2 separate regions of the Homo sapiens genome follow, and region 1 is linked to region 2. Evidence: fine-mapped expression QTL. A gene starts in region 2. The other region holds a variant in brackets. All regions are shown on one strand. Distances are from middle to middle. Region 1 overlaps CCDC28A-AS1 (CCDC28A antisense RNA 1). Region 2 holds the start of CCDC28A-AS1 (CCDC28A antisense RNA 1).

Evidence for each region. PIP is the estimated chance that this variant, and not a neighbour inherited with it, causes the effect.
Region 1: its variant is the best candidate, but not a certain one, in a credible set for the expression of CCDC28A-AS1 in thyroid (GTEx, PIP 0.51).

Annotation. Positions count from the first base shown.
Region 1 is chr6:138,739,298-138,742,213 of GRCh38, forward strand. All of the region lies in intron 2 of CCDC28A-AS1 (CCDC28A antisense RNA 1), which reads right to left. Among named protein-coding and RNA genes, the nearest start is that of CCDC28A-AS1, 33 kb to the right of the region's middle. The variant CG/C (reference allele first, on the strand shown) is at 1,133.
Region 2 is chr6:138,772,352-138,775,267 of GRCh38, forward strand. CCDC28A-AS1 (CCDC28A antisense RNA 1) reads right to left here and starts at 1,352. Exons shown (of 3, transcript NR_161205.1): 1 at 1,164-1,352. CCDC28A (coiled-coil domain containing 28A) reads left to right here and starts at 1,418. Exons shown (of 6, transcript NM_015439.3): 1 at 1,418-1,551. RefSeq lists enhancers at 469-1,143, 1,144-1,817, 1,181-1,230, 1,251-1,310, 1,671-1,730.

The DNA of each region.
Region 1 (2,916 bases), 33 kb before region 2:
CCCTCCTGCCTCAGCCCCCCAAGTAGCTGGGACCACAGGAGTGTACCACCATACCCAGCTAAACATTTTCTTATTTTTTGTGGAGACGGGATCTTGCCATGTTGCACAAGCTGGTCTTGAACTCCTGGACTCAAGCAATCCTCCTGGAATTATAGGTGTGAGCCACTGCATCCCACCAGAGTTACTCTAATATGCTGCTCTTGACTCTTGGCCATGTTGATGTCCTATGTAAATGAGGTGGAGAAGCCAGAACTACTTTGGCAGAATATTGAGGAGGGAGTAATAAGGCACATGGCAGTGAAAATGTTAAAACAAAAAAATATGTATTACACTTATTAAATATGATCAGAAAACCCACTATCTGATTATATTTCCCAGGAATCCCTGAAAGATATTTGCTTCACTAAAGCAGTAAGAAATGCACCAAGGAAGTTTGTACTGGGATCTTTCAGAAACTCAATGACACATTTCTTCTATACGTTGAAGAGATGCAGTCTTGAAACTGGCCTTCTAGTATCAATGGACGTAATAAGATTCTGGAATGGCAGAGGCCAGGGAGTGGCACCTAACAGAGGCAATACGGACATCACTGCTATAATAGATAGCAAGGCTGGAATGGCGATCAGAGTGGCTTGACCTACAGACATCTGTGGTGATGGTTAATAGATCATGCTGTTCCTAGGAGCAAGACAGATGGATACCCAATCAATCAGGATGTTACTTATTTACCTTATAAAATAAAACACAAAACAATTGAAGAGAAGACTGACATCGGCTGCAAAGTGGAAAAATATTGTGGTCTCTCACCCAGTTTTTAGCCAGTTCATAGGTGACAGCCTGTGATCAAAGAGGAGTATATGTCTCCTTGAGGAAGGACCATCTAAAACCTGCTCAAGTATGTACGATAAACATTCCCCCAATTATTCCCCAAAAGCTCTTGCAGCCATTTACTAAAAAAACCGTACACTGGGGAAAGGCATTTTCCAGGCATTTTGAGGACTATTACATAACAGGGTCTGAACTGCCACCAAAACAAGCAAACATAAAATGCCATCATAGACCACTGGGTAGAGAAAGGACGTATGGAGGCCAGGTAATAAATGCAGTTCTGGCCCTAGTCCTCGTTACTATG[CG/C]TATTAGTCCGTTTTCACGCTGCTGCTGAAGATGTACCCAAGACTGGGCAATTTACAAAAGAAAGAGATTTAATGACTTACAGTTCCACATGGCTGGGGAAGCCTCACAATCATGGCGGAAGGCACGAAGGAGCAAGTCACATTCCACATGGATGGCGGCAGGCAGAGAGAGAGACTGGGCAGGGAAACTCCCCCTTATAATACCGAAGAATCTCATGAGACTTATTCGCTATCACGAGAACAGCATGGGAAAGACCTGCCCCCATGATTCAATTACCTCCCACCGAGTCCCTCCCACAACACGTGGGAATTCAAGATGAGATTTGGGTGGGGACACAGAGAAGCCATATCACTGTGAGTCCAAAAATTCTACAAAATAGAATCCTGAAGAATAGGAAATAACCTATTCTGTGGCTATATCCCCAGTTCTCATATGTGAAGTTTGAATGGACACACTTAACAGCTGGCCAAATTTTTACAGCCCCTGACCTATTGTCAAAAGTTATTGACCTATTACCAAAAGTTATTATGGTAAGAGTAGCTAGAAAATAACCCTGAAAAACGCCTCCTGCCACCAAAGTGCCAAGATAGCAAATCAGAAACACATCCCAAGAGGAATTCTGGGAATAAGCACAACTCAGATATTTAAAGGATGCAGACGTGTTGGTTTCCATCACATCCCTGTTTAATTTACCTATATGACTCCTGCAAATACCAGATAGATCATGATGGCTAATAGTGACATATTTTTTTCATTTTCATTTTAGCCACCCTCAGTCCCCCAACCAGGGTCCCCATCTTCCCTCCCCATCCCTGCTTAACCTCACTCAGAGCAGCCAAGCCCTCAGTCCCCAGCCCCAACTCTCAGCTTTCCTCCCTCATGACTTTGGGATCTGCATGGCTGTCCTTTCACACATCCCAGCAGCTTTTGATGCCAAGAACTCCATCACTGCTCCTTGATGCTTCTCCCTTTTCCACCGCTAGGACACCACCCTTACCTGGTTCACCTCCTACTTGGGCATCCAGAGTATTTGTCACTTTCTTGTGTTCTCTGCCATCTTTGAGATGTTAGGAGCCCCAGGGCTCAGTCTCAGGCCTTGTTCTCCACTGTGTTCTGGGGAGACGTCATCCTCTCTCCCAGCTTCAGTGCCTCCATCCCCCACCACACATTGATGCTTCCTGGACCATCTTTGTCTTTAGCCCATAAGATGCTTCTAGGTCCCTGCCCCCAGGGTCCAGCCCCCTCAGAGTGAACATGTCCCAAACCTGCCTTTGTACCTTCCCTGTGTATCTGCTCCTCCTAGTTGCCTAGACTTGAGCCCCATTCTCTACGGCCTGGACCATGCCCATCCTCCTTCGAGGCCTCCCCACCCTCAGTCTTCCCCTCTGGTCCAGACCTCTCGCCAGCCCCTAAGGAATATTCCAGATACACAGATCTGTCTGACACCCTCCTTACTGGCACTTGGAGGTCTTCACAGTCCCACATTTTCCTTTCCCAAATCTCACCCATGCATGGGAGGCTTCGTGGGTCAGAGCACAGTTTTGCAAGGTTCAGCTCTAAGACCATCTCCTCCAAGGAGCCTTCCCTTTCTCCTCCCACGTGAGTGCCCCTCCCCAGTTCCTCATTCCACCAGGTCCTGACCATACCCTGCTGGCAGTGTCTATACCCCGCTCTGTCACTCCCACACCTCCTCTGATGCTGGGCCAGCCATGTGGAACAGGTGGTAGGGACAGATGAATGAATGAATGAATGAATGAATGAATGAATGGAGTGAATGACGGA
Region 2 (2,916 bases):
GGGAAACAACCTAAACATCCATCACTATGGGAATTCCCAAATAATTTGTGACAAATCTATTTGATAAAGTCTAGCTATATTTATCAATGTGGATAGCTCTCAAAAACACAGAATTTGGTGAAAAAATCAAGTTGCAGATCAATACACAAAATATAATAGCATTCATGTAAAACTTCAAATGCCCCAAACCATTCTACATATTGTTTATAATACATAGTAATAGTTTAAATATAGAAACCTAGATTGGCAAGATACATATCAAATTCATGATCCTGGTTGCCTCTCTGAGGGTGGTAGTAGAATGGGACTGAGAATAGGGAACACCTTCTTTATCTGTAATGCTCCATTTCTTTCATTCATAAATCTGTTCGTTCTGGATAGTGGGTGCGTTGTTTATTCTGTGCTTTTTTTTTTTAACATTTCAATAGTTTTGTTTTTTTTTTTTAAATGGCGGGTGGCGGAAGAACATCCTATCCTAGAAGCCAAGAGACTGGGGTTGTCTTTGCTCTGCCTTTTCTGGCATGGATACAATCTCTAGATATGGTTTCCCCATTAGCTAATGCGGGGGGTGCTATGTGGTGTTCCTCCAGAGTCCCTTCAATCTAAGGACCTGTGAATCTAAAACCTTCCCACCTCCCACTCCAACACCGGGAAGGCTACCCAGACCAGGCAATGAAACGTGCATTTCTTCCCTCATTTAAGATAGATCTCTTTCTCTCAGCCTGCAATTCCTTCTCCAGAGGCTTTAAGTATAGTGGAAGTAGAACTATCTTTGACGACAGAGAGACACCTGCATCAATTAGCCTTTCTGAGCCTCAAATTCCCCATTTGTAAAACAGAGAGTATAACACCTACCCATAAAATTGTAGAGAGGTTTAGATACACCGTTATGTGTAGGGCCCGAACAGAGTAGCTATTAATAGTGGTAACAGACTCTCAATTAGGGGCTCAACATCATGGTCGCTGAACAGAATCACGGTCGCTGAACAGAATCACACTCTTCACGCCGCCTTGGAGCCAAAATTAGTTTAGCCGCGAGAAGTCCGGGCAACCAATCGGAAACAACCAAGGAACAGTTGCATGGCGACACTCTGGTTCCGCCTTCGGGCATGCTCGAACAGCATTCTGGGAATTGTAGTTCGGGGGGGGAATCTAACACTCACCGAGGGGCGGAGTAGCTTCCGGAAAGGGTACTGCATTTCCCGTTTCTACCTCCACTGCACCCGCTTATTGCGTCTTGCTCCTGGGTCACAGAGCCTAAAACGACACACCCAACACGCCCGCCGGAGTTACAGCTAAAGGAAGGACAGGGGAAGCAATGAAATGCCGAGGGCGGAGCCAAGAGCGACACTGGGGGAGCAGGAAAAGGCGGGGCTTCCGCTTGGGGCATGGAGGCTGTACCTCTTACGTCACTTCCGTAAACAAACGGAGCTGCGGAGGAGCGGGTCCCGGGATGTGACCGGGGCTCTGCTTGTGGCTGCGGCGGTGGCTTCTGAGGCTGTCGGGTCTTTGCGGGTTGCGGAAGGGGGCCCCAATACCCTTCTTCTTCAGGTATGTAGTGGAAGCAAAGGAACCTCCGCAACCTGCCCCTTTAGGCCCTTCCCACCACTCTGGTCACTGCTGGGTACTGGGCGGTGAAGGGTCATCGCTTCGGTAGATTGGGGAAGGGGAATGAGGTGATGTCAAGAGGGATGCCCAGTGGTACTGCTTGGAGGCAAGACCTGGCACTTAAAACCACTGTGTGAATAAGTAACTATGAGCAGTTTACTTATTATGCCTTCTCTAAAACATTCTTTGCTGTTTGATATACAGGAAGGGTTTCAGTGCTCTTGTGACAGATGTAATTTTCCAAAAACGAGGAAATCGCGAGTGCTGGCTCCGCAGAATATTGTGGTTTAGACCACCACTGGTTTATTTGCATTGCTTTACTTCCTAGATTTTTTTTTCTTGTACCACCAAGTGTGTATTAGCATCGTTAAATTTCAGGCCAGCGTGTTTATGCGTATCATACATTTTTACAGATCCTTGCCTCTTCAGAGAACTAATCGTCTCTATTCAGTCATCTTTCAAACTCTCATTTAATTTGTGTTGCATGTTGAAACAACACCAGAATTATTGTTCTGTTACAAAAAATGCTTCTTAAAAGAAAAATTGTTAGCCAAGGTTTAAGTGGATTGACACCCAGTGGTATCTGGGATTAGAGACTGGGCATTGGAGCCTTTCCCAGAAAGCCTCTTCTTTGGCAGTATTGTAGCTCCAGTTGTAATTGTCTAGCGTCAGCCAATTTAAGCTCAGTGGTTTAAATTCCAGTGCCAGTGGCACTAAGTCCAGGCAAAAGGAAAAAGAAAAATTTATTGAATTCATCAAATAATTATTTTAAGCGACAGCAATGGGTTTGAATCTTTTTGAATGGTCATGGCATGCCTAAATTAAACACAGCATGCCAAAAACGGCCTAATGTTTCTAGAAGGCAATTTACAACCTGATGAGGTAGAGATAGCCATATAAATTCATCTTATGATATATGAAATAATGAAGTTAAGAAAAATTTAACACTATGCACAAATAAAGTATGGAAGGGGTTTTTTTGTTTTGTTTTGTTTTGTTTTGTTTTGTTTTTGAGACGGAGTCTCGCTCTGTCGCAGTGGCACCATCTCGGCTCAGGGCAAGCTCCGCCTCCCGGGTTCATGCCATTGTCCTGCCTCAGCCTCCTGAGTAGCTGGGACTACAGGCGCCCGCCACCACTCCCGGCTAATTTTTTGTATTTTTAGTAGAGACGGGGTTTCACCGTGTTAGCCAGGATGGTCTCGATCTCCTGACCTCGTGATCCGCCCGCCTTGGCCTTCCAAAGTGCTGGGATTACAGGCGTGAGCCCGGCCGGAAGGGTATTTTTTAAATAGATGGATGTTAGAAAAT